Homo sapiens: one gene and its partners. The protein of the gene in region 1 interacts with the protein of each later gene in a biochemical or structural test. Each region holds a gene or a part of one and is shown in the gene's direction. Other genes may lie near its edges. The genes, in order: TRPM1, PALS2 and DLG5.

The links.
Region 2: the proteins of TRPM1 (region 1) and PALS2 interact in a test that uses a peptide from one of them, tested with the Homo sapiens proteins (one large-scale study listed by IntAct).
Region 3: the proteins of TRPM1 (region 1) and DLG5 interact in a test that uses a peptide from one of them, tested with the Homo sapiens proteins (one large-scale study listed by IntAct).

The regions. Positions count from the first base shown.
Region 1 is NC_000015.10:31,039,226-31,042,725, reverse strand, and holds part of TRPM1 (transient receptor potential cation channel subfamily M member 1), read left to right. Parts: intron 1-482; coding exon 483-775; intron 776-2,379; coding exon 2,380-2,608; intron 2,609-3,500.
Region 2 is NC_000007.14:24,691,521-24,694,871, forward strand, and holds the end of PALS2 (protein PALS2), read left to right. Parts: 3' UTR 1-2,673; downstream 2,674-3,351.
Region 3 is NC_000010.11:77,794,094-77,797,823, reverse strand, and holds part of DLG5 (disks large homolog 5), read left to right. Parts: intron 1-1,229; coding exon 1,230-1,373; intron 1,374-1,635; coding exon 1,636-1,763; intron 1,764-2,865; coding exon 2,866-2,975; intron 2,976-3,706; coding exon 3,707-3,730. UniProt on the Homo sapiens protein: Acts as a regulator of the Hippo signaling pathway.

The DNA.
Region 1 (3,500 bases):
GGGAAACCTAAAACATTTTCTCTAGCCCCTTTTGCATGTTTCCTGTTAATTTCTGGTTCAGCTACGTCTGGCAAACGAGTGTTATTTTTGCTACATTTGAAGACCTCCCTGAGGAAATAAACTGTAGACCTTCCCTCTTCCATGATGTTATTTGTGTTTAGTTTTGGGGGAGGTTTTGCTTGTTTGTTTTAGTTTTGCAGCGTCGCCTCAGTTAAAGGCTTCTAAGTAAAACTGCTGACCCAGGGGTGCAAGTTATCCAAACAGTATGCCTTCTCAGTTCATTTGGTTTTAGATAGTTTACTTATCATAATAAACGTGTGCATCTTTTCAAAAGAATTCATATGCGGAGTGGAAATGTAAGATGTACTTCAGAAGTCTCTTTATTACCTCTGACAGAAAGGGTTCCCTTTCTCCAGGAGTTCTGGAACTCTTTGTTGCATACTTTTATGGCAAAACCATGAAATCCATGTTTCTCCCCTCAGGATGATGAGCCTCCAGCTAAAGGGAAGAAAAAGAAAAAGAAGAAAAAGGAGGAAGAGATCGACATTGATGTGGACGACCCTGCCGTGAGTCGGTTCCAGTATCCCTTCCACGAGCTGATGGTGTGGGCAGTGCTGATGAAACGCCAGAAAATGGCAGTGTTCCTCTGGCAGCGAGGGGAAGAGAGCATGGCCAAGGCCCTGGTGGCCTGCAAGCTCTACAAGGCCATGGCCCACGAGTCCTCCGAGAGTGATCTGGTGGATGACATCTCCCAGGACTTGGATAACAATTCCAAGTTAGTGTCTAGCGGGGATTTAAAGGCCAGGAGAGATGACCATCCTGAGTACTTGTCTCTGCAGGGAGGGGTGGCCAATGTACTTCTCACTTAAGGACAATGGTGGTTAAAGCTTGTTCACAAATCACTTCGTCTGTCATGTCAGCATTTTTCTTTCTGTCTCTCAGAGGTGTTTTTGGACTGTCGTTGTTTTTGTGTACTGCCTTCTCTTTGCATCAAAATTGAAACACAATTTTTTTCCTTTCCTTGAAACACAATTTTAATGCAAAGATGGTGAAATTAATTTCCATAGGGAAACACACACTAACAAGGAATACAACATTAATGAGCCTGTGCCCTGGACTGTGACCTGGACTGTGACCTTCACAGGTGTTTCTGATTTTGCTCCATGCTTAGGTGGGACAGGATGGCTAGAGGGGGCTGGAGTTGGGCGTGCTTCCCCTGGGTCAGTCAGGCTCTGATCAAACCAGCAGGTGAGGCTCTGGTAAAATTGGTTCTCCTGGCCGGGCACGGTGGCTCATGCCTGTAATCCCAGCACTTTGGGAGGCCGAGGTGGGCGGATCACAAGGTCAGGAGATCGAGACCATCCTGGCTAACATGGTGAAACCCCGTCTCTACTAAAATATATTTTAGCCCGGCGTAGTGGCGGGCGCCTGTAGTCCCAGCTACTCGGGAGGCTGAGGCAGGAGAAAGGCGTGGACCCAGGAAGTGGAGCTTGCAGTGAGCCGAGATTGCCCCACTGCACTCCAGCCTGGGTGATAGAGTGAGACTCCATCTCAAAAAAAAAAAAAGTTGAAGGAACTTGGAACGTTTATGGTTATTGCCAAATATTTGAATCTGGATCATGTGGGGAAGGCAGTAAACTTTATGCTCAAAATTCAGCTTGTGCCACCTTCTCCATGCCCCCCAACTTCTATCACTGTCCCCATCAGTCATTAGACGCCCTCTGGCCTGGGCCCTATGACAACTATGCCTCATCCCTGTCATAGCACTGAGAATGTTGGCTTCTCTGTAATCACTGTGATGGTGAAGTGTTACACGGGCAGAGAAAGGCATACATCCGAAATGTCCAGCTGGTGACAGTCCACAGGTGGGACATGCCGGCACCACCAGCACCCAGATCAACTAAGAACCTAGCCGGCACCCACCAGCCCTCCTGTGACTCCTTTCAGTGTCCACCTCCCGCCACCACCACCACCAGCAGCCCCGCTACTGTGGCCTCCAACTCCACAGGTGCTGCATTTGAAGTCACTTTTGCTGTCTTTTCTATCTGCCTCCCTGATCTGTGCACAACTTGAGGGAAGGGACTTTGTCTTCTCGTCTCTATGTCCCTGGGGTCTGAGGGGCAGATGTGGTCTCAACCTACAGCTCCATTTGCAGCAGTAGCAGTCAGCCCACCTCCTGACTGAGCTCCCAGCCACTGTCCCTGGCCTTCCCCCTTTGGGGACACATCCCTGGAGCTTCTTGCTTGCAGAGAACCTCAGAGCCCCTCCAGTGAAGGATACTGTGTCCCGTGGCTCCATAAGTCCTTGGTGGATATGCCTGTCTAAGAAACAGCTTGCGGCCACTGTGGCTTCACCCTGGTCCCTTCTCTTTCCCCCCAGAGACTTCGGCCAGCTTGCTTTGGAGTTATTAGACCAGTCCTATAAGCATGACGAGCAGATCGCTATGAAACTCCTGACCTACGAGCTGAAAAACTGGAGCAACTCGACCTGCCTCAAACTGGCCGTGGCAGCCAAACACCGGGACTTCATTGCTCACACCTGCAGCCAGATGCTGCTGACCGATATGTGGATGGGAAGACTGCGGATGCGGAAGAACCCCGGCCTGAAGGTGCGTGCAACGTGCTGCGAGGCGGGCCAGGGTGACAGTGACAAGTGACTCTCTGCCAGGCTGAACTGAGCACTTTCTGTGGCTTATTTCATTTATTCCTTCTAGCAACCCCCTGAGGGAGACGCCATGACAATCATTGTCTTATAGATGAGGAATCTGAAGCTTTGAGATGAAGTGACATGCCTAGGATCTTAGCTGGTCAGCATGGGATCAGAACCTACACTCAGGTGCTCTAACTCCAGAGCCCCACCTGACCAGCCCACCAGGCTGCACAAACCCCTGCCACAGTCAGAGTCTCCTAATGGAGCCCCCCATAACTCAGTATGCACACGCACCCTGGTTGGGTCGTCTACCCACCATTAAAGGAGGGACTGGAACTCTGTTTCTAGATTCCCTTATAACTCTGAAATTGTGTATTATTTTAACTAGTGATGTTTTCATGACATGGGAGAAAATTACAAGAAAATAGGAAGCTACGAAAGGGTTTGAAAAAGATATAGTGGGGGAAAAATTATATTGCAATCAAACCCTAGCTCTTGGGTTTACTGCTGTTAACTACTAGGTTATCTTGAGAAGAGATTCTAATCTGCAGATAACCTAGCAATCTAATGGCAGTATTATATCTATTTTAGAGCTCTCCATGAGGATAAAGAAAAGACTATACGAGTTACACTGTGTAGTATGGTTCTGGCAAATAGAGGGCACTTTGTTTCTTAGAAATGTGAATGTTATGCTTAACTGTCTAATTCTATATAATATGCTAAGCTGATGTTATACATAACTTAGGATATTAATAAACAGTTTTCAGAATTCCAAGAATAAAGAGCTCTTTAAGGTTTTCAGGAAACTAAAGTAGATCGCCTACATGGGGATGAACATCAAATTGGCATCA
Region 2 (3,351 bases), on another chromosome or scaffold:
TAACTAGCATTCTAAAATTTTTAATTACTCCCATTTCTTTGACATTCTGAAACTTTTTTTAGATTGTTTTAAAACGCTCTGGTTCCACCTTGAAGCTGATAATCTTTCTGAAAAATATATGAGAAACTCAGAAAGTAGTCATTATTATAATAAATTTAATTTTCTTAGGGAAAAAGGGCAGGGTTCTGGATGGAAACCCCTTTGGAAATTCTTATTTAAACTTTTGAATGAATCTTTAATATGATTCAGGCTGAGATTATGATACCTGCCCTTGTCTTATTTCAAGAGGTTTGCTGTGAGAATTCATGTAATAACATCTGTAATGTATTTGGAATTTTTGGGAGAAATTCATTCTTTTAAATAATGGGATTATTGTATATAGTACAAATGAATACTCACAAAATTTAAGAATACATTTGACTAATAATTGAGCATCTTGTCAGTTTTTATGCAAGCATATATTGTATACCTGAGGAAGATGACAGTTCTATAATTTTTTTAAGGTAAGGTTATTTTTAAATTGCATTTTTGTTCTAACGTTTTGCAATTTATATTCTTTTTAAAATATTTCCCATAATTCATCATGCTAGCTTCTGTGTTCTTGGAATAGTTTTTGAAAAATGCAGAGATTCGAACATGAGTCCTTAATATACTAAACAGTGAAAGAATGATGATATCTCATTTCTAAAGTAAGCATGGTTCACACCACTTTGGCAATACACTGCAGTACTTTTTAAAAAATATTCTCTAGTGATAAAAGTAAAGACAGGGTACTGGCCAAGATCCTAATTCTGACTTCTGACTGTGTGATCTTCGATGAAATTTATATTTCCCTTTATCATTACTATTCTACTTGTTAAGTAAGGCTAAGTTAATATTTGTCTTCGCCTTAAATTCTGATTTGTAATTTGTAACTCTGATGTGGTAGCTGTGATATGGTGAACTGAAAAATCCTTATTAGGCTACTTTATCTGTTCTCTTTTAGTTATTTTAAAGTGTACCTGTTTCTGAAGTAATGTAGTGAATGGTGAATACTTTTCAGGAATTCTTCCAGTTTTAAAATAGCCCCAAAGATACAGTTTCAGCTGGTGGAAGGTCTGTTCTGCTCTCTTAGTCCTAATCAGAAAGTCCCTTTTATCTTATAATCCCATACTAAATCCAAACCCTTAGCAAATCCTTGCTGCCAACCAGACCACTCACAAATCAAACAAAATGTAAGCAAGCAATCCAGTACTCGGTTACACCAGAAGACTCTGATCTTTGCCCCCGAAAACTGTCCTACTTTATCCTTATACCTGAAATCACTGCATACCTGAAATCACTGCAGCCCTACTGTTTTACCCATACCATTAATTTAAAAAGGCATCTATTTCTTTATAGAAAGAAACATTCACAGTGAGGTCTTAGTTTGTGAACCTCAAAATCCAGATATTAATCCACTTTAGTTATTACTTTGTAATTGCTTCTCAGTCATTGGCTGATAATGCAATGGTGTGATAAATTTGACTTATCTCCACATACAAAAGTCGATCAGAAGGGATAGTTCTCTTCCTTTTTTTCCCCTCCTACTGGCTCTTACTGTTTTCTAATCTCCAGTGTAAATGGAATGAACACATCTATAGTTAAGGTAAATGCCACCAATCAGAAGATTGAGTGATTTACTGCTTGTAAAGCAACTGTCTTTGAATCTTATGAAATAGGTGGTGTTGCTACCACAGAAGCCAAAAAGGTCTTAAAATTGGAAATAGATGTCTTTATTGTACTTCAGCCAACAGCAAGCCAGGGGAAGGAACATACATAAATATGACAGGTCATATATGAAATTTGGCTCTCCTCCTATCAAAGTAGCCTAGGAGCTTGGAGGAAGCCTAATTAACTAAAACAGGAAAAAAGCATACTCATCTGATGTAAAAACTCATCAGCTGTAAATTACCAACATTAAACCAGAAGTCATTACCAGTTAAAATGTGTGGTTTTCATCTTATTCTTAAATAGGAGAGGTGGACAGTAGTGTAAGTAACATTGCTTTAAAGACATAAAGCTTGTCCTGGTAAACATGGTCTAAATGAGAAATGCCTCCATCTTTTCAGGTAGAACCAGATTTCAGGCATAGCTCAGCTACATCTGTATTTGAAATACAATAAAAATATTTCTTATGTCTCTGTATTCTCTTTTAAAAAGAACTGCTGACTGGCTCCTGTCTCTTCAGTAACACTGATTTTTTTTTAAAGAAGTGATATGTTGGACTCTGTTGTAGAAGAATGAGCACTAGTATTCAGCAACAAGTGCAATTTCTCCATGTTATGTTGAGCTCTGTTGGAGCCTATGGTGAGTATTTGATGTGAAAACCTTGCTGTGGGAATTTTTTATTCTTCCTTTTCCCCCCACGCCAGTTCGTTTTGGTAAGTCTTTTATTTGAACACAAGACGCATGCTTTTTTAAACCTCTAGTTTTTGAAGTAACTGTAGAAGAGAATCTTTAAAAAAAAAAATGGAGGGCAGAATGCTTGTTAGCAATCTGAAAATCAAAGCTGAACAAGCTGCTTAAAGTTTCTGATTAAGAAGTTTAAAAAGAAAAATTAATTGCTACTGCTTTCCAGGTAATTGTATTATTAGTTTCTGTATAAAAGAAACATTATTGCTGTTGTATAAATAAAATTTTCCTGTGGTACAATTAAGTATTGATTTTTCAGAAACTGTCCCTATAAATCTTTTCACATATTTCCATGTGCTGTCCAAAACAAAAATTATTGAAATGTCTAATCTGTGAGATTATATACTCCTGGTAAAATATTTTTGTATATATAAAGAAATATTTACTATTGGAAAAAAGTGTTTCATTTATAGGTAGAACTAAGGTTTAGAGATAATAATGGAGGATATCTGATTAGCGTTGATAATTTTTTTTAACTGTTTGCATTTTTTAACTTTTAGGTTTGGGGGCACATGTGAAGGTTTTGTTACATAGGTAAACACGTGTCACAGGGGTTTATTGTACATATTATTTCATCATCCAGATACTGAACCTGGTACCCAATAGTTATCTCTTCTGCTCCTCCCCCTCCTCCCACCCCCCACTCCAGTAGACCCCAGTGTCTGTTGTTTCCTTCTTTGTGTTTATAAGATACTATCATTTAGCTCCCACTTAGAAGTGAGAACATGCAGTATTTGGTTTTCTGTTCCTGTGTTAATTTGTTAAGGATAATGGCCTCCATCTCCATCCATATTCCTGCAAAAGACATGATCTCATTCTTTTTTATGGCTGCATGGTATTCCATGGTGTATGTATATATCTCATATTTTCTTTATCCAATCTGTCATTGATGGGCATTTAGGTTGATTTGTGTCTGCT
Region 3 (3,730 bases), on another chromosome or scaffold:
AGGTTGCTCTTCATGGAGCCTGCTGCTGCAGCTGGCACTGTGCTTGTGTTCTCCTGAGCCTTCTGCCTCCTGGTCCCTGTGCCTGCTCTGCAGTCACTCCTTGTTCTGCATATGCGTACAGATCCCTCCAGGCCAAGCCTCTCATGGACCCTTCCTCCCAAGCCTGCAGTCATCTTGTGCTCTGCCCTCCCCATCATCTCCATACTCATCCTCTTGCCCTGCTCTTTCTGGAGACTCTCATCCCACTTCCCTCCTGGGCCTGCCCAAGTGGTCTTTTCACCCTGTCATCCAGCCACAGTGTCTACTGAAGCCCGCCGCTCCTGGAATTGCCAGGCAGCTCTTGCGTGCTCTCTTGCTGTTCATGTGTTGCTCTGTTGTGACTCTAGTTAAAGTGTGTGCTTTTTAATGGCAGGAACTCTGTGTTCTATTCTTTATTATGTTTCTGAGATTCCAGCACAGTGACTTATACCAGGGAGACGCCAGGAAGATCTTGCTGGGTTTTAGACTGTGTCTCCCTGCAAGGACTTTATTCATTTGGTGCAAGGGGAGGTTTACTGCATGTATCAACTAGGATATTGGTTTGACTGCTTTAACTGAAACCAAATAACAGTGGCTTAAGCATAATGGGCAGTTTATTTCTCTGTCATGTACAAGTCTGAGCTGTGGTTGATGTGGGAGAGGCATTGCGTTCTGAGGATCATCCAGGACCCAGGTCCCTTCCATCTTGTGCCTCTGCCATTTCTTAAGGGTTATCCTCAACTGCATGGCCAGAGCTGGCTCACAGCACTCACCTGTTCTAGCCGTGCAGATTGGGGAGGCCTCACCTGTCACTGGGCAGGTCTGGGTTACACTGACCACACCTTCCTGGGGAGTGGGAGCTTTACCTGCCAAACCCCAGAGGCTGCCTTGCCAGAGAGCAGAGGAGAATGGAGATGGGGCAGGGGAAGCAGGCGTCGACCCACGAGGAAAAATCAGAGCAGAAGGAAGCTCTGGGATGAGTGGTTGAGACCAGCTGCCTCTGGTGTTCACAGAGGGCATGGGGGGTGCTCATGCTGGACTCCAGGGGTGACGATGCCCGGTTGTGCCTGGGACACGAGATTTTCAGTGCTGAAGCTGGGGGAGTCCCAGGCAAACCAGAGTGGGCGAGGTCAGGGAGCGGGGTTCCCCAGCCCCACTCAGGTCCTCCACTCCAAGCTGGGTCCGTGACGCTGCTGCTCTCTCTCCCTCAGATTCGGTGAGCCTGGCCTATCAGCGGGTCCAGAAGGTGGACTGCACCGCTCTGAGGCCTGTCCTGATTCTGGGGCCTTTGCTGGACGTGGTGAAGGAGATGCTGGTGAATGAGGCTCCTGGCAAGTTCTGCAGATGTCCCCTTGGTAAGGGGCACGGGGCACCCTCTGTGCCTACTGGGCTCTTTGTCTCTATGTCCCTGTCCACCTGCCTGCCCAGCTGTGCACAGTGGGTGGCAGTACCGGGGGGCAGATTTCACAGTGTTCCAGAAGCCTGCTGACATGGGTCAGATTCATGCATGGCAGGACTGGGTTACTGACAGCTGCTGAGCAGTGTTCTTCCCCTGCTCCCTCTGCTGGGGCTCAGCAGGGCCTGGGGCTCCCTGATTCCTGTGTCTGTGCATTGCAGAGGTGATGAAGGCCTCCCAGCAGGCCATTGAGCGGGGTGTCAAAGATTGCCTGTTTGTCGACTATAAGCGGAGAAGCGGCCATTTCGATGTGACCACTGTGGCGTCAATAAAGGAGATCACAGAAAAGGTACCCAGGGCTTCAGTCTGAGGATTAGGCATCCAGTATTAGACCTCCTGTGCACAGGTCTAGGCCCCTGGTCCGTGATCCTCTGCCCCAGCGGCTCAGACCTTCAGTGAGCCCACCGTGTTGTGTTAGTCTGAGTTCACCTGTGCCTGGGCTTGCCCTCATGGCTGCTGTGTGTTTCTGCAAGCACATCCCTTGGTGGGGATGGAGGAGTTCCCCTGTGTATGTGCCGCCCCATCTTCCTCTCTGGCAGGTGCGGGGGGTCTCATCTCTGATGAGAGTATTGAGCTCTGCGGAAAGGCCTCTCGCAGGGCATTCCGGAACGGGGTCCCCAAATGCATGTGCCGAACAATTTCACATGCACCTTCTGGGGACAGGAACGTGCCTTCCCTCAGGGTCCCTGCCCCTAAAAGGGCTATGACTCTCGGTGCCTTCGAACATCCTAGGCAGCACGAGGGCGGGGACGTCTGTGGGGAGTGCTGGTGGGGCAAACACTCGGAGTCCAAGGACACAGCCGCTCCTTGGGCTCCATTTCTCCAGGCTGCTCAGCTCGCTCGCTGGGCTTTGCTTCCCTTCTCTGTTAGATGAAGGTGTTGGCTTCTCACTGCTGAAAGTGGGCAAACTCTACTTGGGGGAATGCCCCAGTGGAGCATCTGGGGGTCGGGAGTGCACGGGCCTGCACTCCACCTGGATGCCTGGGACGACAGACATGACAGACATATTTCAGTCTCAGCCACACAAAGGCTCACCAGACTCTGGCTCTTCATTCGCTCAGTCTGGCAAAAATAAGGCTTCAGAGGCCAGGGTGGGGCAGGGCTTTCAGAAGGTCCCTGTATCTGGGCAAAGGCGGGAAAGGAAGTTTGGAGTTGGGCTGGCCAGCACCCCTAGCCCCCTAAGCCCTGGCTCCCAGCCTTGGCCTTCCTCACAGCAAGTGGGGTTTGTTGGGAGTTTCGTGGGTATGGTTTCCCCACGGTGTACTGTGTGGCTTTACTGCCTTGTTTGTGGGTAGAGCCCTGTGAGGTGAGGTGGGTCCTGCTGGTGGCAGGACAGGGGGCTGGCTGCCCCTCACTGCCCGCCAGGGCTCACTCTGCACCCCCCACCCCAGAACCGACACTGCCTCCTGGACATTGCTCCGCACGCTATTGAGCGGCTCCACCACATGCACATCTACCCCATTGTCATCTTCATCCACTACAAGAGCGCCAAGCACATCAAGTAGGTAACTGGCCCCCTGGGCTCCGCTGGGGCCTTGTCACAGGTGGGGCTGGGAGCCCAAGTAGGGAGCAGGGTGTGTTGGGGTGGGGGGTTGAGGAATGAGAGATGGGCCTATGGGTCTTGAAATAGGCAGTACGTGTAGAAAATGACCCTTCCCTGTCGGCCCTGTCCCCTACTCAGAGGTGGTGTCAGCCAAGCGCAGCCCCTTCCTCGCGCCCCTCCGCCATTTGGGTGCTGCCACTGTTTTTTGGGCATGGCCAGCTTGGTCTGCACAGCTCCCCTCTCCTGCCCCAGCCCCCTTTCCTCGCTACGTGCTGCTTAGGAGCAGGGGAGCCAGTGGCCTGGGCACAGTCCCACTCAGCCCCGAGCTGGCTCATGACTCAGGAGCCGTTGCCTTCGCTGAGCTTCGGCTCCTGTGCTGGTTGGGCCAAGGGCTCACCAAGGCCCTGCTCCATTTTGCCTTTCTGTGCTGCTGAGCTTCTGGGACCTGCGCTAGGGGCTGCTGGTGCATCTGTTCCAAGTGTGTGTGCTGGGGGGCCCTCCTTCCCCCATCTGCCCAGAGCTCCCCCGACAGCCTACAGGCTGTTGCTGTGCTTTATGTGGGGAGCACATGGGGCCTCCCTCCACAGCCTACCCCTGCCTTGATGGGGCCCCTGTTAGCCTGGACAGAGGAAGGAAAGAGGGCCTGGAGGAGGCTCAGTGCTCAGCCTGGTGTCTGGCTGTCCCCACAGGGAGCAGAGAGACCCCATCTACCT